Homo sapiens: one gene and its partners. The protein of the gene in region 4 purifies or fractionates together with the protein of the main gene of each other region. This does not show direct contact. Each region holds a gene or a part of one and is shown on either strand. Other genes may lie near its edges.

What was found.
Region 1: the proteins of POLR1D (region 4) and POLR3H purify together in Homo sapiens (affinity purification with mass spectrometry; 6 studies listed by BioGRID and IntAct, with this or other methods). This does not show direct contact.
Region 2: the proteins of POLR1D (region 4) and POLR3B purify together in Homo sapiens (affinity purification with mass spectrometry; 6 studies listed by BioGRID and IntAct, with this or other methods). This does not show direct contact.
Region 3: the proteins of POLR1D (region 4) and CRCP purify together in Homo sapiens (affinity purification with mass spectrometry; 5 studies listed by BioGRID and IntAct, with this or other methods). This does not show direct contact.

The regions. Positions count from the first base shown.
Region 1 is NC_000022.11:41,527,388-41,535,255, reverse strand, and holds part of POLR3H (DNA-directed RNA polymerase III subunit RPC8), read left to right. Parts: intron 1-1,568; exon of another isoform or gene 1,569-2,282; intron 2,283-2,510; coding exon 2,511-2,597; coding exon of another isoform or gene 2,598-2,652; intron 2,653-3,098; coding exon 3,099-3,162; intron 3,163-4,367; coding exon 4,368-4,569; intron 4,570-5,919; coding exon 5,920-5,973; 3' UTR 5,974-6,642; coding exon of another isoform or gene 6,643-6,777; 3' UTR 6,778-7,233; coding exon of another isoform or gene 7,234-7,355; 3' UTR 7,356-7,835; coding exon of another isoform or gene 7,836-7,868. Other genes in the region: ACO2 (aconitate hydratase, mitochondrial precursor), read right to left, coding at 6,643-6,777, 7,234-7,355, 7,836-7,868.
Region 2 is NC_000012.12:106,451,238-106,459,105, reverse strand, and holds part of POLR3B (DNA-directed RNA polymerase III subunit RPC2), read right to left. Parts: intron 4,605-7,868; coding exon 4,395-4,604; intron 1,969-4,394; coding exon 1,810-1,968; intron 1-1,809. UniProt on the Homo sapiens protein: Catalytic core component of RNA polymerase III (Pol III), a DNA-dependent RNA polymerase which synthesizes small non-coding RNAs using the four ribonucleoside triphosphates as substrates.
Region 3 is NC_000007.14:66,110,131-66,118,473, reverse strand, and holds the start of CRCP (DNA-directed RNA polymerase III subunit RPC9), read right to left. Parts: upstream 3,560-8,343; 5' UTR 3,512-3,559; coding exon 3,504-3,511; intron 1-3,503. UniProt on the Homo sapiens protein: DNA-dependent RNA polymerase catalyzes the transcription of DNA into RNA using the four ribonucleoside triphosphates as substrates.
Region 4 is NC_000013.11:27,616,931-27,624,546, reverse strand, and holds POLR1D (DNA-directed RNA polymerases I and III subunit RPAC2), read right to left. Parts: upstream 2,656-7,616; 5' UTR 2,564-2,655; coding exon 2,538-2,563; intron 1,673-2,537; coding exon 1,297-1,672; 3' UTR 1,098-1,296; downstream 1-1,097.

The DNA of each region.
Region 1 (7,868 bases), on a different chromosome or scaffold from region 4:
CATTTTGCAACTCCTTATGAAGACAGATCTCATCAATGATCATTAACTTTTTAGCTTCCCCCAAAGAGAGACAAACAAGCATTATATAGTTCCTGGTGGAAGAACTCAACACCGATTATGAGGCAGTTCTGTTGCTAAACGCTAGGAGTTGAATCTGTTAAAAATTCTAGATGCAAGTTCCAGTTTGGAGGAACTATAGGAATGGAGGAATACAGTGACTGGCACCACAGGCCTCCAGGGGTTATGGTAAGTAGGCAGATATGAGCAGGGCAGGAGAGGGCCCCCTCCCACCAGGAACAACACCCTCATCAGCTAAGCCATCACCACTATCTAATTCCACAATTTTTTTTTTTTTTTTTTTTTGACAGAGTTTCACTCTTGTTGCCCAGGCTGGAGTGCAATGGCGCAGTCTCAGCTCACTGTAACCTCTGCCTCCTGGTTTCAAGCAATTCTCATGCCTCAGCCTCCCAAGTAGCTGGGATTATAGGCACCCAATACCACGCCTGGCTAATTTTTGTATTTTTTTAGTAGAGACGGGGTTTCACTATGTCGGCCAGGATGGTCTTGAACTGCTGACCTCAGGTGATCCGCCCGCCTCGACCTCCCAAAGTGCTGGGATTACAGACTTGAGCCACCGTGCGCGGGGCCATTCCACAGCGTTTTTATCACCCTACAAAGAAACCCCGCCCAGTAGCAGTCACTGCTAATCCTGTCCTTCACCCAGCCTCTGGCAGCCACTTAACTGCTTTCTGTCTCTATGGATGTGGTTCTGGACACTGTACATGAATGGAGTCGCACACTGTGTGGCTTTTGTGTCTGGCTGCTTTCACTTGGCCCCATGTGAAGGTTCAGCCCGAGGTTGAGCCACACTGTAGTGCATGTCAGAATTCCTTCCTTTGTAAGGCTGCATAATATTCCATTGTGTGTCTCCAGCATGTTTTGTTTACTCATCCATCCATGGGGGACTCCGGGTGCCCAGCATTTGCTTTTGGATGTGGTTGTTCCAGCCTGGGGCTCCCTGGGCGCAGGATCATGTGCTGTCCCACCCCCGTGAGCCCAGTGCCCAGACTGGGCCTGGCACAAACCTGGTGCAGGCTCTGTGAAGTTTTTTTTTTTTTTGAGACGGAGTCTTGCTCTGTTGCCCAGGCTGGAGCGCAGTGGCATGATCTTGGCGTACTGCAACCTCCACCTCCTGGTTCAAGTGATTCTCCTGCCTCAGCCTCCTGAGTGGCTGGGATCATAGGCACCTGGTACCACACCCGGCTAATTTTTGTATTTTGGTAGAGACGGTGTTTTATCATGTTGGCCAGGCTGGTCTCAAACTCCTGACCTCAGGTGATCTGCCCACCTCGGCCTCCCAAAGTGCCGAGATTACAGACTTGAGCCACCCCGCCCGGCCTCTGTGAGGATTTATTAAACCAAACTGAATGTTGGGCCATGTGGGGGACAGGGTTTTTCCATCTGTGCGTAAGTGGCCCTTGGCCGCCCTCATCTGCTCTCTGGGAGGTCAGCACAAGGCCCAGTCATCTTCATGGTGGCTGTGATGGCTCACGTTTGTGTCTTCCCAGGGTGAGAGGTCCATCGGCTGCCTCTCCTCATGCCCTGCTGATGCCAGGGTCCCTGCCGTCCTGGGGGGCATGTTGGCCGACTAAATGGTTGACGGCATCGTGGAAGCCTGTGTTTGGGATTAAACCTGTCTGAGGAAGGCAAGATTCGACCCGGTGGCCCTGTCTGGTGGGTACAGAAAGACCAGGTGTCTCCCCATGGCTATGTGGCTGTGAGTGGGTCACCCTGGCTCTGAGCCACTGCCTTATCCTCACGGTGGGAACTCTGTTGGTAACCAGCAGGGGGCAGCCGCGTGCTGATTCTCAGGTCAGCGTTGGACTCCTACTTTGGGGCTTCGAGCAAGGGCCTGAGTGACAAGGTGACATACAGCTAATGCCAGGGCCTGGGGTCAGAGTGTGCGATGTGGGCACAGACCCCACCTGGTGTTTTCCTTGCAGTCAGGTGAGTGGGGACCACCTGCAGCATGGCCTGAGAACCCACAGAGGCATTTTTGCTGGGCTGCTGGCCTGCGCCTCACAACACCAGGGCATTTTTAGCCTCCTCTCCAGGTCAGAGCTGTGCCTGGGGCCGACTTTGCTGCTCAGCAGGAGGTGGGAGTTTCCAAACCCTGCGTTCTTTACCAGTTGCTTCTGCCCTTTTTAGGAGCTGAAGGAGAGCCTGGAGGGAGGTTGAAATTGACTTTGGAGCCACTGATGGCTCAGAATCTGGGCTCAGGTGTGAGTAACCTGGCAGTTTTGGGAGTGCCCAGTTACAGGACAGCTGCTGCTGCCCCCCTGTGGGGGCCATGCTGTGAACTTGCAGGAGACAAAGGGAGGGTCTAGGCTTGCAGGGGGATGTGGCATGGAGCAGCCACACAGGCCCCCAGGTGTGCTGGCACCTGAGGGTGACATGGGAGCGCACTGGGGCCCCGGTCAGCATCACTGATGGGCTGTCTTCATTTCCAGTCCATTTTCGCTGCGTGGTGTTTCATCCATTCCTAGATGAGATTCTCATTGGGAAGATCAAAGGCTGCAGCCCAGAAGGAGTGCACGGTAACAGTGGCCCTGACGCCTCAGACAAGACTTGGGAACACTGTGGGGGCAGGAGGTCTGTGTCCACCCACATGGTCAGGGGAGGGCTCAGGTGTCGAGGCCGAACCTTCCCCGTGGTGTCAGAGAAGCTTGCCCACCCTCCCTTTTATGTGTTGTGTGAGGACCTCCATCAGCAGTGCGGTTTCACTGTGAGGCCGTCACTCAGGACTTCAGGGTGGGCACTGAAGCTGGCGGAAGTGACTGGGAGTCTTTAGCGCCCACTGGCCCCTGTTGTGTGCAGAGGTTTTGGGGACTAGGTGCTCCGGGCTTTGCCCAGGGCTGCTCCGCTATGTGGGTGGTGTACGCAGAGGCATTAGGTGGGGAAGGGGCCTAGGTTTCCACAGCGACATCCGCCTCGTGGGCAGCCCCAGGCAGGGCTTGCCTGTCAAGCATAAGACCCCGCAGTGTTTGGCGTCCACTGGGACCCCCATCTCAGGCCGTCACCTGCTTCCTTCCTTCCAGTCTCTCTAGGCTTCTTCGATGACATTCTCATCCCCCCAGAGTCACTGCAGCAGCCAGCCAAGTTGTATCCTCCAAGGGTTAAAGTGGTTTGTCACAGGGAGCTCAGGCCTCTCCAAAGGAAGGTCCCCACTCCTTAGGGTGGCCTTTGGGGCCTGTAACCTGATGTCACTGGCCTCTGTGCCTGCCCCTCGCCTGTGCTTTTGCTCCAGAGGCACCAGCCTGTCTGTGCCTCCCATGCAGGGAGTCATGTGATGCCCACATGCCTGTCTTTGTCGGGGCCATCAGGCTTGGCTGTCTGGGTTGTACACTGCACACCATTAGAGCTGTGGTGTCCTGGGGGACACCATTCACTTCCGGTTCACTTCACTTAGGTTGTCCCTGCAGGAATCATCTTAAAGATCACTTGCCCTGGAGGCATGCACTGGTCCCTGGGACGTGAGGCCTTGCCTGTGTGCCGGGTCGTGGGCTAAGATGTGTTCCTCCTGGGCCTCCGTTGTCCCTGTCCCACCCCTCACCTTGCTGTACTGGGGTTGTCTGTTTCTGTGGGGCTATCCACAAATCTGAGGCTCCTCACTGGGAAGGACTCTGACATGTCACAGCTGTACCCACGGTGCACAGCACGGGACCTGGCACAGAGGCAGGACCCAACAGTGGGACTGCCACCAGAGAACCCATGGCTCCCCTGTGTGGGCTCTGCCAGGGACGATGGAGAGCCAAGGGGGACTGCCCTGGCTGGGTGGCAGCACGGCTCTGGGTCTGCATGTGACTCCAGGATGTGTTAGAAAACCTGGCGCAGCCCGGCTGGTTCTCTCACCACCTGTCATCCAAGTGGGCAGGTGACCTCCCATCCCACTATGTCCTCTTGAAAACGGCAAGTCCTTGGGTGCCCATCAGCCTGTCACAAGGCTTTGATGAAAAGGGTGTGTGGGGCTCCGTGGCAGGAGGCCCAGGTTGCTCTTGTCTTGAGAGGTGGGACTCGGACCCTGTCTCGTCCCCTCCTGCTCTGGTGCTCTGAGATCCATGTGCGTCTGGCCGTGGTGCCTGGCTGGGGACCCCATGTTCCCCTTCCTGGGTCCTGGCCTCCAAGAGCGCTTGTTCCTCTCTGTTTGGCCCAGGCCTTGTGCATGGGGCTGGGACCTGCTTTTCCTGTGACTTCCCAGCCACAGTGATCTCACCCTGAGATTGGTTTTTCCTGCGGGGTCGGGGAGTGGGTGCTGAGGGAAGCCCCTCCCACTATCTGGTTGCTGCCTTGACCCTGGACCCCCTCAGCGACGAAGCGGAGCAGGTGTGGGTGTGGGAGTACGAGACGGAGGAAGGAGCACACGACCTCTACATGGACACCGGCGAGGAGATCCGCTTCCGGGTGGTGGACGAGAGCTTTGTTGACACGTCCCCCACAGGGCCCAGCTCAGCAGATGCCACCACTTCCAGTGAGGAGCTGCCAAAGAAGGAGGCTCCGTACACGCTTGTGGTGAGTGGCTCTGATGGTGCTGAAGCCCCCATGAGGCGGGAGAGCCGGAGTGCAGGGCTGGAAGCTGTGTCCTGGGGCTTCTGCTCTGGGATCTCCCCCAGCAGGTCAGGGATCCTGTTTGGGGGGTCTTGGCTGGTCACTTCTCCCTGGAGAGCCTGAGTTTCTGTAGGCCAGGGCTGTGAGGCAGTAAAGGTACATGGCTGCTGGTGGGGTGGGCGAGTCAGCTTGCAAAGGGGACAGAGCTCACGGTGGACAAGACCACTGATAAAGCGGCTTTGAGGCCAAGTGCAGTGGCTCACATCTATAATCCCAGCACTTTGGGAGGCCAAAGTGGGAGGATCGTGTGAGGCCAGGAGTTTGAGACCAGCCTGGCTAAAAAAGTGAGAAGTTGTCTCTATAAAAAACAATTAGCAGGGCATGGTGGCGTGCCCTGTGGTCCCAGCTACTTGGGAGGCTGAGATGGGAGTATCCCTTAAGCCCAGGAGTTCAAGGTTGTGCCACTGCATTACAGCTTGGGCAACACAATGAAATGCTATCTTTAAAAAATTGGGGGGTAGGGAGGGGTTTGAGGGAGAAAGAAATCAAGGAAGGGGCTTGGGAGAGATCAAAGCCCTGAGATTAAGGGTAGGGCTGCTGGGGCACAGTGGCTCACGCCTGTAATCCCAGCACTTTGGGAGGCCAAGGTGGGCGGATCACGAGGTCAGGAGATTGAGACCATCCTGGCTAACACGGTGAAACCCCATCTCTACTAAAAATACAAAAAATTAGCCGGGTGTGGTGGCGGGCGCCTGTAGTCCCAGCTACTTGGGAGGCTGAGGCAGGAGAATGGTGTGAACCCGGGAGGTGGAGGTTGCAGTGAGCCAAGATCGTGCCACTCCACTCCAGCCCGGGTGACAGTGCGAGACTGTCTCAAAAAAAAAAAACAACAAAAAAAAGGTAGGGCTCCCTGTAGGAGCAGCATTGCAGCAGTGAAATAAAAGGGAGGGCTCCGGGGAAGAGTGGCTTTCAAGGCTGCTCCCTGTTGGATGCGTCTGGAGCATGGGCCTTGTGTTTGCTCAGCCTTCCTGCCACGATTAGAACCTAGGTGGCCCTGGAGGGCAGGCCTAAGGGTGAGGAAGGGTCCCTGACCCTATCAGGGCCTGGAGTCCCTGGAGAAGGGTCTGCGCCCTGCGTGCTGCGTGCCCGTTGGGAGCACTGCTGTGGCTCCCACATCTCTCCAGAGCCTCTTGGCTGCCGTGTGCCCCGCCTCTTCTTTGCCTGTGCTGGGCCTGCTGGGCTCCCTTCACCTCCTGTCCAGGTTGGTTCAAGCCAGCATGTCAGTGAAATGTGCGTGTTCTTTATCCCTGGCAGGGATCCATCAGTGAGCCAGGCCTGGGCCTTCTCTCCTGGTGGACCAGCAACTAGCCCTGGGGCTGGACAGTGGACCCTACCAGCCTGCGGGAAGGTGGTATGGCCGGCTGTGAAGACAACAGCAGCTGAGGCCGATGCTAAGGAGATAGTGTCTCGAGCTGGACAGTGAGGCAAGGCCAGGAGTGCCCACCAGCTTGCCCCGCTCCTCCACCATCTAGGCCCTGCTCCTCCTTCACTGCAGTGATGGATCCATCTGTGGCTGTGGCTGTTGGGCCTCCACTGACCTTGACTGAAAAGACCCTTCCTGGACCCTGGACTTGACAACAAACGGCACAGACACCAATCACTCACAGAACAGTCACTGGTTTTGGATTCTTGTTTTCCTTGCAAGAACAAAAGGTTCTCTAGAATCCTTCAGCCACCAATGAAATGATCAGGCAGGAGAAAAACTTTAGATGGGAGTCTTGTCATCAAAAATAAATACAGTTGCATGGAGCTGCTTAAGATCTGAACCAAACTCAAAATAGGAAGACGGGGGCTAAAAAGTTATTTTAAGAACCCCCCCACCACAACCACAGTCACTCCGTGGGCTAAGCGGGGAGCAGGAAGCATGTCTGGTCACACCATCTTGGAATAGGAAGCCATGGCTGGACGGATCGGATCCACTGATGGCACACGTGGAGCTGAACTTGACGCCAGCGGCGGGGCGGGGAGGCACTGCCCTCACTGTTGCAGTTCCTTCATTCTGTTGAGGGCACTGCCAGCGCGGAACCACTCAATCTGCGTCTCGTTGAAGGTGTGGTTCAGGAGGATGGTCTCCTGGGTCCCGTTGGGGTGCTTGATGATGCACTTCAGGGGCTGCAAGGAGAAGGTGGGTGTGGGTGGAAGTGGTGGGTACTGTGTGCCCTTGGCCCCGCAGGGGGGTCAGGGAGACAGGGCACTGCCTGGGGACCTAAGAGGTCAGCAGGCAAACCAAATCCTAGGCCAGTCTGTGCCTGATGGCCCAGGTCAGACCCAGGTGGCACCTACAGGGGATTCCTGGGGCCCAGAGGGTCCTGCAGTGGGTGGGCTGTCCCCTGAGTGCCAGGTCCTGGTGAGTAAAGGGAGGTTGGGGAGGTGTGAGGGCCCCGGGTTGACTCCAACCCCCAACTCTGAGAAGCCACTTTGCTTTCTCTGTGGGGCCACCTGGAGAACTGGGGGCCTTTCCAGCTGGAATGAAGCCTCCTGGGAGAAGCTACCCTGGGGCCAGTGCAGGAGGGGAAACAAGGTGGCTGCCCCTCACCCCACCACCTCAGGGGGACCCGGGCCCCTAACCTTGCCAGGGGTGAAGTCCTTCAGGCCCTGAATGGTCAGCTTGTCCACAGGGTGAATCTTGTTGTAGTCAGCCGGGTCAGCGAAGGTCAGAGGCAGCAGGCCCTGTTTCTTCAGGTTGGTCTCTGGAAAGCAGGCGGCATTCGGTCATCGGGGGCCTGACTAGCCTGGAGAGCTTCATTTTCTGAACCCATCTGGGGCTCTGGGAGATGCCCCTAATCCTGCTGCCTGGGACAATGCCCGGGCAGTGACTATGGGGCCCTGGTCTGCTCCCTTTCACTAGGGGTGCCCCTAGCAAGTGTGCGCTGGTGCTGAGGTCTGCGAGGCCTTCCTGCTGCACATTCATGATCAGAAAGAACCCCCTGGCACATGTCCTAGATCTCAGCGGCTCAGATCTACAAGCCTGGAAGCAGGGCCTGCGGGAAGCCGGGAAGCTGAGCGTCGGATGTGCACTGTGTGAGCCTAAGAAGGGGCAAGAGGCTGACGGGCCTGTGGGCTGCAGTGGACACAGCCTAGAACCAGGCCCAACTCAGCCACGGGCAGGGAGAGTGACCTTGATCACTAGGGATGGGATGAGGATGGCCTGGGTACAGACTCCAGCTCACCGTGGATCCTGGCAAAGCTCTTGGTGATGATGG
Region 2 (7,868 bases), on a different chromosome or scaffold from region 4:
GCAGTGAGCTATGGTCATGCCACTGCACTCCAGCCTGTGCAACAGAGTGAGACTCACACACCCACACACACACACACACATCATAGTCTATATAAAATTAAGAAAATAATTCAGAGTACTACATGAACATGAGAAACATCATCTCAGTAAATAGCAATTTTATATATCTCTTAGGGTGTTAAGTTTTGGTCACTTATTTTTATTTATAGTTATTTCAACCAGTAATAAGCCACCACCAATTTAACTTGGGCAACAAGGAAATCAAAATATTTCTTTGGTTATGCTGTTATTCCCATTTTTGCTTTGTATCTCTTCCTGGTAAGTTCAAAGACCAACTACCTGTAGTACTGTCACAGCGCGTATTTTCCAAGCCATACTGACCAGTGTTAGGGTGAGAAAAATTCTCCAAGAAACAAAGGCAGAGGGAGGGAGGAGAAGTCGCGTACTCTGTGTCTCTTTGGAACCACAGCTTGATAAAGCATTCACCGCCCACAGGCCAACCATGACAAAGTCATGTGGATTTCCCTCCTCACAAACTGGGTTCTCTCCACCTTCACCACAGCTCCTGGTACCAGGTCTACCTTCTATTTTAGTGCCCTTCTAATCCTTTTTCTACACTGTAGTCAGAATGATCATTCAAAACACATATCTGAATATATCATTGCTTTTAGGATCATAATGAAAATAGTATCATGGGCTCGGCATGGTGGCTCAAGCACTTTGGGAAGCCGAGGTGGGTGGAGAACTTGAGCCCAGGAGTTCAAGACAAGCCTGGACAAGATGGTAAGACCTCATCTCTACAAAAAATACAAAAAACTATCCAGGCATGGTGGCACGTGCCTATGGGTCCCAGCTATACAGGAGGTTGAAGTGGGAGAATCACTTGAGTCTGGGAGGCAGAGGTTGCAGTGAGCTGAGATTGTGCCACTGCACTCCAGCCTCAGTGACAGACTGAGACCCTGTCTCAAAAATAAAATTAATAAAATAAAATAAAGACAATACTAACATGGTTGCAAGGACTTGCTTACTCTGGCCCCTACCCCTTGCGTCACCCACCAACTCATGTGCACCATGCTTCCCTGCACTCTCTTCTTGTTAGCCACGCTGGTCTTCTTTCAGACCTTTCAACTACCAAGCTCTGGGACCCTTGCACAAGCTTTTCTCATTACTTAGAACATGCTCCCTGATCCTCTTCTTTAGTTAACTCTTCCCTATCCTTCAGATTCCAGCTCACTTCCTCGGGAAAGCCATGCTGATCTTCCCAACAAGGTCAAATTCTCTTGCTATAAAATGGCCTCATAGTTACCTATATGATTCCTTAACCTGGATTTATGCATGATCCTCTGATCAATGTCAGTCTCCTGCACTAGCCTGTGAGACCCATAAGGGCAAGGGCTATTTGTTTCATCAACAAAATGCATTACAAGTTTGTAATTATAATGGAGTCATACCTTTGCAGGGGGATAAAATTCTAAAGTAGTCTGTAAGCTAAATGTGTAAATGAAGAAATACCAGTGCAGATGCAGGGACATAAACTACTCTAAATATTTCCTTAAAGTGGCTTTTCTATTATTCAAAATTATAACTAGAAAATTATAGTTAGCATAGATTACTGATAGGTAAAAACATAGTGTATAGAAAAACAGACTGGAAGGAAATTCATCAAAAATGACCTCATTGGTTGAGTTTGGATGGTGGTTTTATAGGTTGTTACTTTTTTCTGCCCTTTTTGCCAAATATTCAGAAATATTATTGAATAACATATGATGTCAAAAAGTATTAAAATTTTTTCTTTTAAAAGGCTTTTACCTGGAGAACAAATACCATCTGCATCTAAGATTTCATGTCGCCAGATAGGTTTCCTTGTAGCAGCATCCAACATGGGCCCCATCACTTTATCAAAAGTCTGATTGGTGTATCGTTTCAACGTACATTTAGCATTTTTATATACAAGGCAACGCCCAAAGCCTAAAATGAAACCAAGATGGGCATTAGAACCACCAGTAACCCAAAGCTATAAGGAAATATGGATTTGTGCTACTCAACAATCCACTCCACCTCACCCTCCCCCAAATCCCAAAACTTCTCTGTATTTGATAATAATCTGGGACCAGTACAAACCAAATAAAAATCTGATAATCTGAAGAAGCAGCACAGGACTTGTCCCCTACCTACTGTCTGTGTAAACACTGGAATCTCTACAACCATTTTCTGCATGGAATACACCTTGTCATACTGGAGAACGGTGAGAGAAATCTAAGACTGGCGCTGTGATTCTTTCAGAGGACAGAGCCATAGAATATTAGAATTGGAAAGGCCCTTAGAAATCACCTGCTTAACCTATCTGTTTTACAGGCACTAGGAGTGAGGTCTAGAGAAATTAAGTGGCCAAGGTCATCCAAAAAGTTGGCAGCAGAGTTGAGAATTGTGTTGAACAGCACAAGTCCACTGACTCCTGAGCCAGGATACACATCCTTTTGGTGCATAACTTCTGCTAAACTTCCCTGGAAAGTTTTCCTTTTTAAAATTTGGCATTTAGAGCAAGTTCTAAGCCAACAAGTAAAAACAATAATTTTTCTCCAGAGAAGAGACAGAATGAAAAAAGAAATAATCAAATTATTTCAATGGGAAAAATAGTTCTCCTCTGCCCTAAAGATTGGAGTTTAATTACATTTTTAGATTGCATTTATCTAGTGGATGAGGGAAAGGCTGTGAAATCAACTAACAATCTAAACATCAAGAAAAATAAGCTGTCTAGCAATGGATCAGAAAAGAAAAGGAAGAAAAATAAGCAAAAAGGACAGAAGAAAAACCTTTGGGTGGGGCAAAAAAACTCAACCACTGAATCCCTAAAAGAAAAAATCCATGAGTTGTAGAGTTACCCAAAACAGCTGTCATTCCTTCAACACTATAATTTCCTGATTCTGTGGCTGCATTTCTTTCTTTTTTCCCTTTGGCCAAGCAGTTATTTTAAACTGGATTCTCTTACTAATCTCCTCAGGATATACTGAGCCATGCCAGAGTTCACTTAAATAAGAAATGTCTCAGGATTAAATGCCGCTTATTACTGATGAAATAAATGCATGGCAGTAAAATCCTTCACTTAACAATTTTCCACCAAAAACAGAAATCTAAGAATGTGACTTTAGAAATCAATCAGGTAAAAGTGGATTTATAAATAAAATCTCAGGGCTGTAATGTAATTTTTTAAATATGAAGGTGACTGTGAGATGAAGTAACGAATTTCTAAAATTGGACGTCAGATGAAGACATTTGTGTCTTTAAGCAAGGCCGTAGTCATCATGGCTCCTAGGAAATTGTGTATGGCCATAATAAACTCGGCTCAGAATGCCAGCTGGTTTGGAAACATTACATGATCTTGAAATTTCATACAGTAGCCATTAACTGCAACATGCTGGAGTGCAATGTGAATCTTAACTGCATGAAATCAAGAAGTGTTTTCTTCAAAGTGTAAACAGACATTTTATTTACAGGTGATAGCTTAAAAGCTAGGGGATAGTAAACTCAGATCACTGAATTGGGTTGCAGAGTTTCTGACAGACATCACAAAGTCTTCAGATTTCCACATAAACGTTACCAGTTAATCAGAAAGGAAAACATCTAGTTTTAAAGCATGGCTGTTGTCATTTGGAGGAAAAAAAGAGGCATAAATTAAGTGTGGCCAACATTAATGCCAAAGACACATGTCTAGGAGTACTATTATGGCTGCCTAGCAACTACAAAGAGGGAAGGGGAAGGCATAGTGGGTACGCCAGGAAGGAAAAAGAGAAATCGAGATTATGAATAGAGAAGTCAGACTTCAGATCAGGTGATGTCTAACAAACCACGAGGTGGTGACTTGTGAAAGTATTGTCAAAAACAGAAAGAAAAGCAGAAAAACTCCACGCCAGAGTTTGTGGCCGTGTATTTTTAACTTTCGTCACTTGGCCAAAGAAGTTACCAAATTATGAGGTTACACAAATAAGAAACAGCCTTTTACATCCAAATATTGCTACTGCCCTCTCAAACAGGTTTGTTGTTAATAATATGTATCACTAGACACAGTGAAAACACATATTTCATATACTGTAATTCCTGCTGGAAAACAAACACATTCTTACATTTTTTTTCTTTTTGAAGGATTGTCTCACGTAACCAATAAAATAATAAAGGAGAAAAATATTCTGTAGTAGTATGTTTAACAAATTATTTCAATATACTAGTCATTAAAAATGACAAGAAAGCCAACATCAAAACCCAACCACCTCCTGTTTCTATATCATAAAATTCAAATAACTTAAAACTGACATTAACCAAGTGATTTTTACATTAATCATCCCTATATCTAATTCTGCAAAAAGCAACTTTGGTGTTAGTTTTGAAAATTCACTTACCTCTGTCTAAAGAGGCCTTGTTTAAAACAAGAGCATCTTCAATATCATAGCCACTATAGCTCATCACAGCAACTGTTGCATTCTGTCCAGCTGGCAGTTTCTCAAATTCTATCAATTCAATGGTTTTTGTCTTAACCATGGGTTTTTGTGGATATGCTAGTAGATACATGAGAGTATCAATTCTGTTTCGCTGGTTGTATCCTATAGTACCTGCATTGATATGGGAGAAAACAAAATACAACATTCTATTATGTGAAATAATAAGGTAGTAATGAATATAGAGATAAATACATTAACATCACTAATTAAAATGAACAAAATCTTCAGGTTCAACATTTCAAAAGCAATACTCTCATGGTGGCTTAACAACTTGCAAAAGCAACTTTTCTCACTAATATTTAAAGTTCTACAAAGAAGGAAAAATATAAAGTATATTTTAATCTAAATAATTTAGACTTTTTGGATTTACATTATCCCATTTGAGGGATTTAGTTTCCACTGGTTAATTTCACAATCAACAATTCTTTATTTGGTTCTACCGTGTTCCAGGCCTGCTGGGGAGAGGTAATGTAAGAACAACGCCCAGTGTTCACATCCGAGGAGCTTATAAAATGGATAAACAGGTATATTCCATAAAAAGAAATAATTGCAAAAGTTCTAAATGAAAAAGAATACAGGAGAGAAGGGAAGAAAAAGAATGAACAAAGAGGAATTCAAGTGAGAGCAAGGAAGAGTGGATTATGCATTTATTTGATGATTCATGTATTAAGCAGTTAATAAACATCTACTCTGTGCCAAAAACTGGAGATAAAATGAGAAAAGGCTTGGCCCCTTCCTTAAGAAATCTAGGGTACAGCCCAATCAGGGGTGGGCTCTTCCCTCCTTAGCAATCAGTCTTTCCACCTGATTGTTCCTCGGATGGGTGTTATTGGGTCACTGTCAACTGAACATGAAATCAGAATGTTAACCCTTTCTCTCATTTCCCCTTATAAACACACTGGGGTTCATGCACCTGCCTGAAGATGAGTCTTTCAGTCTCCTCGGCTTGTGGACACAGAACTGATGCTACAAAGAGATGTTAAAGTTGGAAAACTCAGGCTTGCTCTACTGCTGAGCTTGAGTGTGGGCTACTGAGCCTCTTTAACTTCTCCTAGGTATCTCTTTTCTCCCCCTGTGAATAGCTAAGGCAGCTTTAAGTCTCTCTCTCTTGCACACGCTTCCATAGTGACACATACACACCACACACACACACTCCGAAGTACCTAAGTGCCATTTCACAGAGTTACACCCTAGGGTATGCAGACACCAAAACTCAGTATTTATTTCCTTTAACTTTTTCTCCATACTCATGTCATTAAATCAATGATGATTTCATTTTGGGGATGAAAATAAGCTATTCAGGCTGGGCGTGGTAGCTCATGCCTGTAATCCCAGCACTTTGCGAGGTCGATGTGGGTGGACTGCTTGAGCTTAGGAGTTCAAGACCAGACTGGGCAACATGACAAAACCATGTCTCTACTAAAAATGCAAAAATTAACGGGGCATGGTAGTCCCAGCTACTTGGGTGGCTGAGGCATGAGAATCGCTTGAGCCCAGGAAGTAGAGGTTGCAGTGAGCTAAGATCATACCACTACACTCCAGCCTGGGCAATAGAGCAAGACCCTGTCTCAAAAAAAAAAAAAAAAGAAGAAAAGAAAAAGAAAATAAACCATTCAAGCAGCAAAAATTACTTGACAATTACTACTGAAAGAAATAGTACATATGTAGGGAATACCTAGTGCAGTGCCATGCTTATTATAGATGCTCAATAAATGTCAAGCAAATTAAATTGAAGAATTCTATTATACTTTTTATGACAGTATGTGCTTAAATCTCTAAAAACTTAAAAAGATTCAGCTGAAAAACAAGTCAAACTGAAACTCATGAACTTTATCAAGGTTGCACTATAAATTGCCAATTGATTTATGTTATTTTAGTGCCAACTAATAAACTGGGCAGGATACCTGGCAATAGATCACTTACTGTTTTAGAAATAAGATTACTACTGCTGGGATTATGGTAAAGTTCACTGACAATAAGTTTGTCCTTTTTTATGAAATCACTTAAAATTTATGTTGAGATTTCAGTTCCAATTGTATACCTTACTCAGCTGGAGACAAGGGTTCAGGCAATGTCCCACCAGGCTGCCAAACATGTCTTCTGAAACCTGAGACACGCATTATTATGCAGCAGGGAAGCATAAATGGCTGCACCTCTAAACAATGGTGAAAGAGACTGGATCCTGCTATAAATTGTGCTACCAGGCCCAGAACATAATTCTCAGGCATTACAACTGACCACTGAATGGATGAACAGCAAAATAGTTTAGCAAATGTTTAGTGCTTATGACATCAAAAAGTTTTCTCTAAAGGCCTTTTAAAGAACTTGTGAGAGTATACATGTACGTGCATTTTTAGCAGCACTGACTATGGGTGTGTAAGTTAAAATGTTAAAATAGAATTTATAAACTATTCTATATCATAAAACTTCAAAATGCTATCAGATTCCCAAATGTTTATAAAAATAATGAATGGCTGACTAACCATTTTGCCAATAAGCAACAGGCAAGCAAATGATAGGGCTTGCCTGTGTGCAGCACACGCTCAAACTTTGATTCCCCTATTAGTATTTTCAGCTTCCTTAAAAAGGGCGTTACATATATATACACACATATAAAATAACACAAGGAGAATATCTATAAGTTGCATTCTACTTCTATTATCCCATTTTGCTGTACTATGGTCTCCAATGATTCCCTTTACTTACTAAGGCATAATCTTTCTAAAAAGCCCTATTTTCTTGATAACAACTTTCTTAAGTCACAAGCTGGCACTACAAGGTAAACAAATGTAAGTTAAAATATTGAAAAAGTGCTCTTTTATAAGGCAGCATGAAAAAGCTTGGTAAGGAAGGATGTAAACAGCTTAGAAAATGTATGCTGAAAAAATTAAAATGAAGTTTTATGCATTTAGCTATTTTTTCCTATCTTCCTTTGCCAAATTTCCTCCCCTCTCCTTCCCTCCCCTCTCCTCCCCCCCCGCCTTTTTTTAAATAACAGAGTCTCACTCCATCACCCAGGCTGGAGTGCAGTGTTACAATCTCGACTCACTGCAACCTCTGCCTCCTGGGTTCAACTGATTCTTGTGCCTCAGCCACCCGAGTAGCTGGAATTACAGACTTGCACCACCACACTCAGCTAATTTTTGTATTTTTAATAGAGATGGGGTTTCACCATGTTGGCCAGGTGAACTCCTCAACCTCAAGTGATCCGCCTGCCTCAGCCTCCCAAAGTGCTGAAATTACAGGCATGAACCACAGTACCTGGCCTCAATTTTCTTTTAAATCAACATTATTGAATACAATAAACTTCATCCATTTAAAGTGTACAAATTAATGAGTTCTGATATACATATATCAGAACTTTTTATCAAGGTT
Region 3 (8,343 bases), on a different chromosome or scaffold from region 4:
ATGCAATGCTAAGCACTAGGTGAACAGACACTGGTCCCCACCCTCCAAACAAGTAAACATACATTTATTATTGCAACTTGTAATTATTTGAGGGAAAGTAAATCAAGGTACTATGAAAGACAAAAAGAACTTATGTTAGTTAGACTTACTGAAGACGAAAGGCAACTTTGAAAAGGGACACAACCTTCAAGAACAGGTGGCCAGGTGTGGTGGCTCACGCCTGTAATCCCAGCACTTTGGGAGGCTGAGGCAGGCAAATCACCTGAGGTCAGGAATTCAAGACCAGTCTGGCCAACATGGAAACCCCGTCTCTACTAAAAATACATAAATTAGCTGGGCGTGGTGGCACACGCCTGTAATCCCAGCTACTTGGTAGGCTGAGGCAGGAGAATCTTGAACCCTGGAGGCACAGGTTGCAGTGAGCTGACATTGCGCCACTGTACTACAGCCTGGGTGACAGAGCAAGACTCCATCTCAAAAGCGAACTAAAAAAAGAACAATAAAAAGAAGAGAACAGGACGAGGGCGAGGAGGAAAGTATACCAGACAGAGGGTACCACAACGCAATGGTCCTCAGGAAGTGCTTAGAAGGTTAGAGGAGAAGGAAATACCTGTCAGTGGAAAGTGTGTGTCTGGGAGGTTGGGAGAGTGGCAAGTGGTAAGGCTGGGGAGTAGGTGAGGTTTTACAGGGTCTTGCAGGTCCTGGTAAGAGATGGAGATTTTCTCTAAGTACAATGGAAAGTCAATGAAGGGTTTTACCCAGGAGCGACATGTTCCAATCATTACTTAAGATCACTCCAGTTGCCATGTGGAGAACAGAATGGAGGCTGGGGAAGAGTGAACACTCAAAGGCTATTGCTTAATCCAGCCCAGAGGTGATGGACTACAAAGCTAACATTGGAGATGGTGAAAAGTAACTGCATTCAAAATATATTCTAGGGTGGAAACAACAGGACCACTGATGGACTGGATTTAGGGAGTGAAGAGAGAGGGCTAGATTTTTGGTCTATGCAATTGGATAGATGATGAGAAGAAGGTTAGAAACATACCTTTGAGAACCATCAGCACATAGATGGGTGAAATGACAGAGTGTGGAGAGAAAGGGTCCCAGGACTGAGCCCTAAGATACCACTCAACACTTAGACATCAAGCAAGAGAGGAACGGGACCCAGGGAAGGACACTGAAGTAGTCCTTGATGTAGGAGGAAATACGCAAAGGAACATACATCACAAGAAAAGGAAAGTTTCTAGAGTTTCTGTATTAACCACTGCTGAGAGATCAAGAAAGTTGAGGCCAGAAAATCAACCTCTGAATTTGACAAGATGGAGGGATCAGGTTTTTTTTTTTTTTTTTTTTGAGACAGTCTTGCCCTGTCACCTAGGCTGGAGTGCAGTGGCACAATTTGGTTCACTGCAACCCCTGCCTCCCGAGTTCAAGCGATTCTCCTGCCTCAGCCTCCTGAGTTACTGGGATTACAGGCGCCCACCACTACACCCAGTTAATTTTTGTATTTTTAGTAGAGAGGAGGTTATGCCATGTTGGCCAGGCTGGTCTCAAACTCCTGACCTCAGGGGATTCGCCCACTTCGGCCTCCTAAAGTGCTGCGATTATAGGCATGAGCCACCACGCCCCGCTGGTTCAGGTAATCTTAACAGTCATTCCCGTAGACCAGTGAGGATGAAAGCCCAACAGAATGGCTGAGAGAATGAGGGGCTAATCAGCACTTTCAAGAAGTTTTGTTGGGATGGGAAGCAGAAATGGAGTAAGAGGGGGACATGTATGTGGGGACGGAGGATTTTCTAAGATGAATTCTCTAAAGCAGGGTTGTATGCTCACAGGAAATGCTCTAGTAAAGAGGGAAAAATTAGTAATGATGGCTTGGACTAGAGTAAATTATATGAATAGTTTTTTAGGTTGCAGATGAAATCCCATCAGTGGGTTGCAAAATTAATTCAGTGGTTCAATTTTTTTTTTTTTTTTTTTTTAAGACAGAGCCTTACACTGTCACTCTGGCAGGAGTGTAGTGGCTCTATCTCAGCTCATTGCAGCCTCCTGGGATCAAGTGATCCTCCCATCTCAGCCTCGTAAGTAGCTGAGACTACAGGCATGAACCACCACACCCAGCTAACTTCTTAATTTTTTGCAGAGACAGGGTCTCCCTATGTTGCCCAGGCTGGTCTCCACCTCCCAGGTTCAAGTGATCCTTCTGCCTAAGCTTCCCAAAGTGCTGGGATTGCTGGTGTGAGCCACCACGGTTGGCCCCATTCATATTAATAAAAAATAGACAATATGAGAGTGTACGCCACACATTATTGTTTCATGAGCCTTTCATTTCAGTTACACAGACATATTGTGTTTAAAAAAAAATCGGAAGAGGCCAGGTGAAGTGGCTCACGCCTGCAATCCCAGGACTTTGGGAGTACAAAGCAGGAGGATCACTTGAGCTCAGGAGCTGGAGACCAGCCTGGGCTGTAGTGAGACCCTGCATCTACAAAACTTTTTTTAAAAAATTAGCGGTGAGTGATGGCGTGGGCCTGTAGTCCCAGCTACTGAAGAGGCTGAAGCAGGATTGCTTGAGTCCAGAAAGTGAGGCTGCAGTGAACCATGATTACACCCCGCCTGGGGGACAGAGCAAGACCCTGTTTCTTAAGAAAAAACAATTAATTAAAAATGTAAAAATGTGAAATGCCATAGTACATATAACCATTAAACATGAGGCAAAAGAACATAAAGGAAACTGTATCAAATAATCAGTTCAAAGAGAACACAAGATAGTAATACCTACAAATTAATATCAACCGTATAAAGCCCACATTCAGAGTAGATGCAAAATCTTCCATTTGCACCAGGCGCAACGAGCAAGCATGGAAAAGACCACGTGGAGTTAAACTGTCAGAAAATCTTTTACCCTCGCCTTGCACACACACCCACACACCCCCTGCTGTTTCTCTGGTCCCAGTCCTGGTTCACGTCCTTCCCTTCTCCACCCCAAAACCAGCCCCTTCCCTCACAGTGTTTACTGCTCCCATCAAATTCCGAGGGCAGCTCTTCCGAGGGCTCTCCAGGGGCCTACAGCTGCAAGCAGAGCTCTACCCGGCCCTGATTCGTCTCTCCTCCACCTACTTTCAGGGCGGACAGACTCAGGCCTTTATAGCCTTCTAAGTCCGGGGTCGGATACCAGACTGGGCTCCACCCCCGCACTGTGACCCAGAAACGCTGGTAAACGAATGAGAGAAGGAGGGGGCACATTGAAAGGCAGCCGGACACGGAAGTGCTCGGCCCCGCACCAGACACGGCGTGGAGGGGAAGCGAAGGTTCGGAAGGGCAAAGCGAGAGTCCCGTTCGTCCCCGTCACCACCCCGCGGCCCTCCCGGACAGGGCCGGCCCGCTGCCCTCACTCCCGTACGAGGGTCGCCCAGTCCCCACGGCTCTCGGCTCTCAGCTCTCAGCGGTCAAACCGTTGGGCTCCTCGGGCGAAAAGGGACGCGCCCGAGAAGACTTACACTTCCATGACGTCCCGCCTCGTCGCCCCTAGCTGCCAGCAGACAAAGAACCTCACACTTCACAGCTGTCTCCGCCGCCACCAACAGCGCCAAGGTGCCAGCTCCGCGCGCCAAGGTGCTCGCCGGGATCGCCGCGCTGCATGCCGGGAGCTTGGCGGACCCGGAACCTCGCGCTGCGCGTTCCCCTTTTTCGGGGGGCAGGGTGGGGGAGTGTCCCTGCATCCTTCCACCAGGCCGATTTAAGACTGCTAAGCGTTTGCGGACAGGATTATCTTGTGTTTTCTTTTCTTTTTTTCTTTAACCTTTTTTTTTTTTTGAGACGGAGTCTCGCTCTGTCGCCCAGGCTGGATCTCGGCTTACTGCAACCTCCGCCTCCTGGGTTCAAGCGATTCTCCTTCTGCCTCAGCCTCCCAAGTAGCTGGGACTACAGGCGCTTGCCACCAAGCCCGGCTAATTTTTTGTGTTTTTAGTAGAGACGGGGTTTCACCGTGTTAGCCAGGATGGTTTCAATCTCCTGACCTCGTGATCCGCCCGCCTCGGCCTCCCAAAGTCCTGGGATTACAGGCGTGAGGCACCGTGCCCAGCCTCTTTTTTTCTTTTTTGAGACAGAGTCTCGCTCTGTCACCCAGGCTGGAGTGCAGTGGCACGATCTCGGCTCACTGCAATCTCTGCCTCCCAGGTTCAAGCAATTCCCTGCCTCAGCCTCCCGAGTAGCTGGGATTACAGGCGCCCGCCATAACGCCTAGCTAATTTGTGTATTTTTTAGTAGAGACGGGGTTTCATCATCTTGGCCAGGCTAGTCTTGAACTCCTGACCTCGTGATCCACCCGCTTCGGCCTCCCAAAGTGTTGGGATTACAGGCGTGAGCCACCTCGCCGGGCTCTGTCTGTTTTCGTGGTCTAGGTTTTAACAAAGTATTAATCAGCTGAAGTTGTGAGACGTGATCGGGTTAGTGGGCCTTTGCATGTTAAAATCCCACCTCTCAGAGAGTAGTGAGGCTGGTGGCATCTGGGCTGCCAGAAACATTGCAGTTTATTTATTTATTTTTTAAGAGACAGGGTCTTGCTCTGTCGCCCAGGCTGGAATGCAGTGGTGCAATCAGAGCTCACTGCAGCCTTGAACTCCTGGGCTCAAGCAATCCTCCCACCCCAGCCTGCCAGAGTAGCTGGGACCACAGGTGCGCTCCGCTACACCTGGCTAATTTTCTTTTTTTCTTTTTCTTTTTCTTTTTTTTTTTTTTTGAGATCAGTCTCACTCTGTTGCCCAGGCTGGAGTGCAGTGTCGTGATCTCGGCTCATTGCAACCTCTGCCTCCTGGATTCAAGCAGTTCCCTGCCTCAGCCTCCCCAGTAGCTAGGATTACAGGTGCCCGCCATAATGCCCAGCTAATTTTTGTATTTTTTTAGTAGAGACGGGGTTTCACCATCTTGGCCAAGCTGGTCTTGAACTCCTGACCTTGTGATCCACCCTCATCAGCCTCCCAAAGTGTTGGGATTACAGGCGTGAGCCACTGCACCCAGCCACCTGGCTAATTTTCTAAAATAAAATTCTTTATTGTCCAAAGAGTCAGCTACAAAATTTTTTAATTTTTTTGTAGAGATGGGGGTCTCACTGTGTTGCCCAGGCTGGTCTTGAACTCCTCGCCTCAAGTGATCCTCCCACCTCCAACTCCCAAAGTGCTGGGATTACAGGTGTGAACCACCACAATAGCCTCTGTTGCCTACTTTGTAAATAATAAGGGTGTTAAATAATCCTTATAAAGTTCCTGGCACTTTATTAATTACTGTGGCAATACAACCATGACTCTCTATGAGGTACATTGCATTATTATTGACATTTTATAATTGAAGAAACTGAGGCAGACTTGGAGAGATTATGATTTACCAAAAGTCACTCATCTAGGAAGTTGTCCAGTGGGTATTGAACCCCAGCCAATCTGAACATATACAACAGATGCATTAACTAGAGACTGATGAGTGGATGAATAAAATGTGCTACATTTGTGCAATGGAAAACTACTTAAAAAGGAGGCTGGCCGGGCACGGTGGCTCACGCCTGTAATCCCAGCACTTTGGGAGGCCGAGGCGGGCAGATCACGATGTCAGGAGATCGAGACCATCCTGGCTAACAGGGTGAAACCCCGTCTCTACTAAAAATACAAAAAAAATTAGCCGGGCGTGGTGGTGGGCGCCTGTAGTCCCAGCTACTAGGGAGGCTGAGGCAGGAGAATGGCGTGAACCCAGAAGGCAGAGCTTGCAGTGAGCCAAGATCGTGCCACTGCACTCCAGCCTGGAAGACAGGGCAAGACTCTGTCTCAAAAATATAAAAATAAAAAGGAGGCCAGGCTTGATCTCAGCACTTTGGGGAGCAGAGGCAGGAGGATTTCTTGAGACAAGGAGTTCCAGAGCAGCCTGGGCAACATAGCTAGACCCCCTAACTACGAAAAGTTAGCCAGGTGTGGTGGTGAGCACCTCTAGTCCCAGCTACTGGGGAGGCTGAGGTAGGAGAATCGCTTGAGCCAGAAGGTAGAGGCTGCAGGGAACTATGATCACACCACTGCACTCCAGCCTACAGAGTGAGAGACCTTGTTGCAAAAAATATATATAGACAGACTGATAGATAAATGCTGCAAGATGGATAACCTCCCAAAACATGATGCTATTAATAAGTGAAAGAAGCCAGACACAAAATAATATATATTGCCTGGCCAGGTGGCTCACGCCTGTAATCCCAGCACTTTGGGTGGCTGAGGTGGGTGGATCATCTGAGATCAGGAGTTCAAGACCAGCCTGGCTAACATGGGGAAACCCTGTCTCTACCGAAAATACAAAAATCGCCAGGCGTGGTGGCTCACGCCTGTAATCCCAGCACTTTAGGAGACTGAGGCAGGCAGATCATGAGGTCAGTAGTTCGAGACCAGCCTAGCCAACATGGTGAAACCCCGTCTCTACTAAAAATACAAAAAGTAGCTGGGTGTGGTGGGGGGCACCTGTAATCCCAGCTACTCGGGAGACTGAGGCAGGAAAATTGCTTGAACCCAGGAGGCGGAGGTTGCAGTGAGCCGAGATCACGCCACTGCACTCCAGCCTGGGTGACAGAATGAGACTCCTTCTAGAAAAAAAAAAAAAAGAATACATATGGTATGATTCACTTTATATAGAATGTCCAAGAAGAGGCCAATCTATGGATACAGACAGAAGGCTAGGTTGGGGGCAAGGATGGGAAGTGATTGCTAATAAGTAGGGAGTTTCTCTTTGGGAAACAGAAATTGTCTAAAATTATTATAGATGGTGGTGGTGGTTGCACAACCCTGTGAATATACTGAAGACACTGAGTTGTATACTTTAAATGGCATATTGTACAGCATATTAATCCTATATTAATAAAGCTGTTAAACATTTTTTACTCTGCTGAGTGTGGTGGTCCACACCTGTAATCCCAGCACTTTGGAAGATGAAGGCAGGTGGATCGCTTGAGCCCAGTTTGAGACCAGCATGGGCAACATGGTGAAACCTCATCTTTACCAAAAAAATAGAAATTAACCAGCTTGATGGCTCGTGCCTGTAATCGTAGCTACTCAGGAGGCTGAGGCAGGAGCATCGTCTGAATCTGGGAGGCGGAGGTTGCAGATCACGCCACTGCACTCCAGCCTGGGTGACAGAGCAAGACTCCATCGCAAAATAACGACAACAAAAAAGTCATAAAATGCCACCCAGACCCAGCTGGCCTAGTTAGTGTGGAGAATTCCCTGTACCTTCGCTGAGGAGATTGGGCCCCACAAAGAAATGCTAAAGATGCCCCTTGTGTTATTCACTCAACAAGTATGTAGCCATGGCCCATCGGGGGCTGATGATACAAATGTGACTAACACACACCCTCTGCACTGGCTAGCTGACAGCCTAGTTGAGGAACCAGCTCTGGACATAAATAACCACAATGCATTGTGTTTCGACGCGATGGGCAGGGGAGGGAATGACTAATGAGGTGGAGAGGCGTCCCAAAGCCACGGGCCTTTGAAGTGGGTGAGGGAAAAGCACACGAGGCCGAGGGATTGGGTATGGGCTTCAGTGAAAAACAGCAGTGCCTCTGACAGCCCCCATGATAAAATGGCTCAGGTGTGACTTAGAGTAGGGAGTTAGCTGGGTGTTCGAATGATACCCGGTAGGCCAGGTGCGGTGGCTCATGCCTGTCATCCCATCATTTCGGGAGGCCAAGGCGGGTGGATCACTTGAGTCCAAGAGTTCAAGACCAGCCTGGCCAACATGGTGAAACCTCATCTCTACTGAAAATACAAAAATTAGCCGGGCATGGTGGCAGGCGCCTGTAATCCCAGCTACTCAGGAGACTGAGGTAGGAGAACCACTTGAGCCCGGGAAGCGGAGGTTGCAGTGAGCCGAGTAAACATTCTTTTTACTGTCTGCACCTCTGGTCCTGGATAGTCGCTGATCACCATGACAATTAAGGGTATGGACCTTAAGAAGAAAAGATTATCCTGGATTTTCTATGTGGTATCAACATAATCACATGGATCATTAAAAGCATAAAATCATTCTCACCTGATGTCAGAGCCCAAGGGAGGTGTGGCTAGGGAAGGGAAGAATGATCTGAGAGATGCAATATTCCTGCCTTTGAAGATGGAGGAAGGGGCCATGAGCCAAGGAATGTAGGTAACTGTAGAAGCTGGAAAAGGCAAGAAAACAGATTCTCCTGTGAAGCTTCCAGAAAGGACTGCAGCCCAGCTGGGTGCCACGGCTCACACCGGTAATCCCATCACTTTGGGAGCCCAAGGCAGGCGGATTACTTGAGGTCAGGAGTTTGAGATCAGCCTAGCCAACATGGTG
Region 4 (7,616 bases):
AGCTATATATCTATCCCCAAGGCCTGGAACATACTAGTGCTCAAAAATATGGATATCTCTTTAAAGAATTTGGCTGAGTGTAGGAAATGTAGGCTCTATGGCACGCTAGTGTAAGAGGTCAGGTTTGAGTGACTGAAAAGCTGCATGCCATAACTACTTACATGAATTCATAGAGTATTTACTAAGTGTCCACTACCTGTCAGGTGTTCCAGGTACCAGAATCATGTTGACCTCCAAGTTGGTTTAGTGGGTAAACAAGATAAGCACTACCAATAGCATAGTAAATGCCAAGGCCAGGAAACACAGGGTGTAATGAAAGCACAAAGAAGTACCCAAACTAGGCTGAGAGGCCTGACACATAAGCTTTGACTTAAGAGTACGGCAGGAGTAAGACTGGCCCAGGAAGAGGGGATAGATAAACAAGGGCCCAAAGCACAGAGCACTGGCGGGTGGGATATGTGTTTTCCAAAACAGTCATTTCCCCTATATGGAATTTTCCTTCTCCTTGGCTTTACCTTCTCTCAAATAGGGCTTCTTCTACATTACCCTAGGCTATACCTACTTAAGGACTGAAAATGTTTTCTAGTCATCCCAATTTTCTCCTTCTGTAATATAATCAAAACATCTTACCTTACTTAGATCATGACTAAGTATATCCCAAAATTCAAGCAGTAAACTGGTATCTTTCCTGTAAATGCCTCAAAGATGGAGCCTTACTCCCTAAAACTCTCATGTAAAACCAGAATTCTCACACTTCTTCCAAATTATTCCCACCCTTGCCAAGTCTACCAATCACAGCAAATGATGCAATTCTTTAAAAGCCAAAAAGTTTAGCAAGAAGCCAAGTCCCCACCCCAATCTTCTTTCCTTCTGTTTTTAAACAACAATCTAACTGGGGTCATGGTTTTTGTCTCTTCCCTTACCCCCACCACTCCAACTACAGACATGGATATATACTTCTTTTAATTCCCATGATCACAGTTCTTGTCTAGGCCTCTGATATTCTCAGTTTCCTCATTTTCAATGCTGGCTTAATTAGAAAAAAAGTCATCCTCAAGGACCATTTGGTTGCATGGAACAGAAACCAGTCAAACTAGTTTAAATAAAAGAGGGAATTTATTAGAAGAATACAGAGGTTCTTGCAGAGATTCCAACAGCTGCAAGGGGTCAACAGCTAGAATCACGCCTTTCTGAAGGACAGAGTATGCTGTAACCACAAACTTCTAATTCTGGGTTCTGCACCATCAGGAAGAGAATATCCTACAGGACAGTTCTCCTTGTATACTGCATAAAGGACTAGAATGTGGATTCATTTCTGCTTGCTTTTTGATCCTTATAGTCCTTTATGCTGGCCTCAAACTTGTCAAGCACATGTTGGCAGACATTCATGAGCTCATTCAGGCCTCTCTGAAATGGCTCAACAGCTGGAAGGGTACCTCGAGTCTGAATGCGTAAATTAATTTTGCTCTCTGAAGGATGGGTCGTAGTGTAACCACAAAATTCCACTTCCGGGTTCTTCATGATCATGTAACGTAGAGAATTTCCTAGGGTATGGTCTTCCTCGTGCAATACAAATGTCACACAGTGTCTATCTGTTCCAGCTGCCTGGACCATTTCCAGGGCTGTCTTCCTCTCGCCTTCAGCCATTGAGGTCTTCAATCCAGATATTTTTCTACACACATATTTTTTATAAAAATGAGATCATACTGAATATTGTTTTGTAACTAGCTTTTTCTCATTTACTATATCACATTGCAACACATTATTATTAATCTACTCCAGCTACACAGAATTATTCGCCTCTCATTTTCCTGCCTCCACAAACTCTATCAATAAATATTTAATTTATTGCCTCCAGTTTTTCCCTGCTCCATTTGACCATCCACACTGGCCACAAGGGGAGTTTTCTTAGAAAAACACAAACTTAAGTGTTTGCAAAAATATTTTTTGGTAGAGTCACAAGCAAGGGATAGGATTAGAATAGGACTGGTCCTGCTAGAGGATGAAGAGAGGGTTGAAAGGCATAGAAATCCCGATTGCTCTAGTATAAAAATAGAGGATACAGATGATCAATGTGCAGGCCCAACTACGGCTTCCATTTTGCAAGAGAAGGAAACTAGGAGAATGGAAGGTTCAGGAGTCAAGCAGCAGGGAGAAAAAGAGCTCAGCGCACAGAGTGGCTTTAGGAGCAGTCTGCACATAGAAAGAAGGTGAGCCGTAGTTACAGGGACAGAGGCACGAGTACCGTCCTCAGGAGCAGAGGCCCGGGGCGTGATTTTTACACACTGCTGTTGTAACGGGGGTGGGCAGTTCGGATACTTAACTCTGGTCTCCCAACTTGTCTTCCCTCCTTGATAGCTAGTGTACCTCTCAGCCTCTCAACTGAAACACATTCATGTCTCCTCCCCACTTCTCTCTCCATGCTTCTTCTCTGCGCCCCGAGTCAGGCCCCGGCTGCCAGGCCAGGCAGCGTGCCCCTCGGCCACCCGCTCCCCTTGGGCGCGGCCCGCTCCGCCCGCCTCCTCCTCGGCCGTTACCTCTCCAGCTCCTGATCCTCTTCCATCGCTGGGGCGGTTTCTGGATCCTCAGGTGGTGCTGGCGGATCGGGGGCTCTGTCCCATAGCGCGAGGCGCGGAGGCGAAGCAGGAAGCAAGGACCGACCGACGGAAGGCGCGGAGGACGGAAGGAGGGAGGAGGAGCCGCAGCGGCGCGGCAGGGCCCAGCCGCGGGGCGGGGCATGAGGCTCCACCCCCAGCCCCCGCCCCGACGCGGGGTGAGCGGTGGCTCGCGGCCCCGCGGCTCACCTGGGCGACCACGCGAGGCCACTCGCGGCGGGAGGGGCAGGGGGCGGGGCCAGCGCCGCCTTACCCCGAGGCCCAGACAGGCCTGCGGGCGCCCCGGCTCAACTCTGGTACCTTTCCCCAGGTGATGGCGAAGGGGCGCGGCCTTACCTGCCGCCCCCAAATCACTTCCCTTCCCAGTGGCAAGTCCGAAAGCGGCCCGACTTCCCAACTGGGGCGGTGTTGACCCAGGATGGCCCTTCCTGGGACCCCGGCCCTCCCGGGCCTTTTGTGGGACGACAGGCTTAAACTGTAGTCGGTCAACACACCTTGAAGAGGGAGGGGGGTCACGTGCGAGATGAGTCACCACAGAATACGAAGGTTGAAGGCGGTATTTGTTTCACCGGGGAGCTTGCAGTTGCATTTTCAACTGGGTCAAAATAGGGCAAGAAAGAAATGTCTCTTTTGGGGGAGTGAGAGTTTGGGAGAAAACTGTTTCCCACCTTATCCTTTCCGTCCTAGGATTCCTTCTACCCCCAGAGCGCGTCCTCTCCGGCTGTAGACTTCCTTTTCCCTTTCTCCCCAGTGGCTCCTCAAACCTCCTCACCTGCGGAACCCGCCCTCACCTTTGTTCCCAGGCGCCCAGCCCCCGCCTCGGCAACCTTTCGCCGCCCAGGCTCGCTCTCCATCCAGCTCCCTGCGTCCCGGCCTTCGCTGTGCTCCCTCAGGTGCGCTTCCTCTCGAATCGGCCCTTCTTGTCCCCTCGCCGCTGGCCCCGACCCTGCCCGACTCCAGCTGTCCAGCGCAACTACGTTTCTGCTTCCCTGCGCCACCTGTTCTCCTGGCCTCCCCCCACCCCGCCCCGCGATTCCTCTGGATGTTCACTCCTTCCCCAGCTGTGCCACTCTTGGCGGCGGCCGGGGGTGCGCGCAGACACCTAGCCAGCGGGGCTTCCGCAGGGGAATCAGGCGGGCGGCGGGGACAGCCCGGGGCGAGTGGGGGAGGCGGGCGGCGAGGGCGGAGTGGTCTCACTCTAACCCGGGAGTGACGGGTCCCTTCTGGCCCGCCTCCCGAGCTCTCGGATAGGTGGAGCCGCCCTCTGGTCCGCCCACCTCCCGCCCTGTGCTACCTCCGATTGGCCCGGGTGCGGGTTGGGCCGCTCGGCCTTGGCGCTGCCCCCGGGAAGGCAGCAGGGGCGGTTGAGAAGTGAAGTCTTGGCCGGAGTTTGCTTTTTGCCAGGAAATCCGCGGCGGCGGCGGCGGCGGCGGCGATTCCTGGCGGAGCGGAGCCGGGCAGGCTCTCCGCTCCCTCAGCGGGCCGCGGAGAGCGGGAGCTGGTGCCGAGCAGCGGCGCCAGGAGCCCGTGCGCGGCCCGGGCAGCCGCGCTTTCCCAGTGAGTAACTTTGCCCTGCCCGCCTCGCTGCGCGCCCTCTCGCTGGCTGCGGGCAGCCGCCTCAGGTGCGGGCGTCAGCTGGGTGTGGGTCAGCGCCGCGCCCCGGGAGGCGGCCGGAGCGGCGCCACAGCTCGCCCCGGAGCCTTGGTCCTTCGCGGCTGTCTTCGCTCGCCCGGGCTGCGGGGCTGGCGTGGACTCGGGTGTGGGTCTGGTCCAGGAGGGAGAGTCGGCGCCCGGTGCCCGCCGCCTGCAGGCGCCCGGGAGGCGGGCGGCCTCCGGCTGTTAGCGTTTGCTGGTTCCGGCCACCGTGGTGCAGAGCTTGGCGTCGTTTGCTTCTTAAGGGAAGGGAGAGGTGGGGTGAGTGTTTAAATTTCCTCTGTGTGTGTGTGGTGTCGGCAATGAGAGTGGCACTAGCTGCCTTTATCGGGTTTTGTTCTCTGGAAAGGGATGGGGAGAGATCATTCCCTCCGCCCCAGCCTGTTGCCTGTGAATTCTCACCTTTCTCTTTAGGCTGGAGAGGGTGGGAGAGAGATTTGACATCTTCCAGGGGGTAATTTAAAAATATGAATCTTGATTTGGAAGCAGTTGCACACAAAGCATCATTCAGGAAATACATCACTCGCTTTTCAAAGCTGTATGCCACGTTTTAAACAAGGACTTTTGACTCATGTAGTGTTTCTTTTAGTATTTCAGTTTACGTTAAGTTTATGAATCCAGACGTTCGTTTGTACCAGGAGCTAAAGTACACTTATGCATGGGCTTTGCTGTGTATATTATGCTTTTTAAAATCACAGAAATCAGAAACAAAGTTGAGTGAAAAGCGGTGGCGGTGCAGGAGGAGGAACACTTGTGAGCTCCAGCTTATTGGAACTGCCTTTAAGAATTTCACATTCTTGCGGCAATAGTACTTACTTGTAAATTGGCCTTCTTCCCAGGACAGGTTTTGATATTTCTTTTGCATGTACTTCGATGCAGCACTAATGAAGTTGGATCTCAGTAGATCAATTTTATTTACTTTGCTAGATTTGATTCCCACCCCCACACCTCTTTAGAAAATGGACTTTGGCAGGTAAAGAAGGAAGCGGGAATCTGGTATCCTTTTTGGCTTGTCAAAGCTTTGTTGAGCCATGAATAACAAAGTTTTGGCTTTTTAGCTTGTCCGAGTCCCACATGTGAGTTTTCCCATGGGGTAAAAGTAGGCCAAATGAGAACCAAAGTAGAATAACATCACTTTTAATTCGGCCCACTTGTGTGTTACATTCTCCATATATCTTGTTTCTCTCATCAACTTTGAAATTTTTTCATTATTTATTCATTTAGCCACTGATAAAGTACCTACTGCATGCCAGCCATTGATGGCGGGGGTTGCTTCTTGCCCAGTTTTCTCATTTGGAAACTGATCCATGCCTTTATCCCACTAGTTACCCTGAAGTAATTTGAACTTAGGGAGCATTTCTGCCTGGAGACCTGTAAGAATAGGTGTTACGTAGGCACTTAGTCTTCAGATTGGTTTGGGATTTCGTACATTGTAGGCACGTAGCACGCAGGCCACTTAAAAATAAATGTATGTGTCTTTGGGCTGTTGTATTACGAGCTTTGCATATGGGCTTGTCTGGCCGAAGGACCCAGTGTCCGAGGTGGAGGTAGTAGTCAGGGACATGTATTATTCATTTCAGAACACTTGGCACCTTTTCTTGCTTACATTGGGCACTAAAATATTTACTGAATTGACTTGAACAGAAAAATGAAGGATTTTTTATACCAGATTAAGAAATTTGGACTTTATCCAGTCAGTGATACTGAGCTGCTAATTTTAAGCAGGAGAATGTCATGATAACGGGTAAGCATTCCAGAAAGATATCTGCAGCGTCTGGAGGATGGTGGGCTTCCAGATGGGCGATATGGAGACTAAGTTGGAGGCTGTTCTAATGGAGGGGTTAAGTGCTCAGGGATTCTCTATTCAGATTACCTGGGGTGGAATCAGGCTCTGTCATACACTGAAACCTCTTTGTTCCTTAGGTTTGTCATCTCAGAGTTTGGGGGATAGAACTTGAAAAAACATGTCTATTACTTAGAATAGTGATTGCCAGATAGTAAGGACTTAGTAAATGCTAGTGTGCTGGCAGTGGAAGGAGAAATGACGTGGTGTTTAAGAGGTATGACTAGGAGGCTGGACTAGGTAAGTGACTGGGTAGGCTTAAGGAGGGAAGGATGAATCCTGGGTTGTTTGACTTCAGGCATTGATTGACATGTACTGGGTAAGCTGGCTGTGAAATTAAAACGGGTCAAATTCTAATTCTATTACTTACCCTTAGAATAACTATCCTGACAGAACTTTGATTTCCTAACATTTGGGAAATGATTGTCGTACCTGTTGAGTAGGGTTTGAGGAATTATGCATGTAATGCCTTTGGCAGGGTACCTAGCACATTCCAAGTGCTCAGTAAATATTAGTTGTTCCTTTAGATGATGACATTAATGAGCTAGTGGAATGTTGGAGGATATGAGAAGGAGCAGTTAAAAACAATTGATGGTAGAGGTGTAGAAGGGAAGATAAGTTCAGTTTTGGACTAATCTAAGGAGGTGCTAAATGGATGGTTGAGAGATCCATGATGCAGTTGTTGGATAGTTGTGTCTCACAGGAGCTAGGAAAGAATAGAAAAGAAAAAGAGTTCACAGAAAGGCTTTATGAGTATGGTAAGCTTTATGAGAGATTTAGAGGAAGGGGAGGGTGAAGGGGTTCACAGTGGAGCGATATCAGAAGTGTTGACATTGAATATTAGGCATTTCTATCCTTAAAATATATTTTGGCCACCATCAAAGAAAGGAGGACTCCAGGCTCTTGTAATCTGGTTGGCTCTTTGGCCTTCTTCCCCTCTTCTTTCTTTCCTTTACAATTGCCACCCGATATCTTTAAATTGTATTATGAGGAACTATTTAACTTTCCTTCCTGCTTACAGGGCTAGAGTTCACAGGCCCACCTTCCTCTATCCAAATGCATCTAGGTTTTTAAAAAAGAATCACAGGTCTCATTTCATAGGTTCTCCTCTATTTAGGAAGCAGTGTTGTTTGAAAAAGTAATACATATGTATCTTGCATGTAGAATTAGAAGACTGGGGCAGGCCTACCTAAATTGACCCTGTAGGAGGGCCTGAGAGTCTTACAAAAGACATCCCTTTTAGCTTTCCTGGCACCTGTTTCTTTTCCTCAGAAAATACAAAGCAGTAGGAAAATCTGTGGTTAATAAGTTATTTTGTTTGGTTGGATTCAGAAAAGGTGGCTATTTTGTGTATTAGCCTTCTAAGAAGTTATTAAGAGGAATTTTTTGGCCAGGTGCAGTGACTCACGCTTATAATTCTAGCACTTTGGGAGGCTGAGGCGGGCGATCACGAGGTCAGGAGTTCAAGACCAGCCTGGCCAACACAGTGAAACCCTGTCTCTACT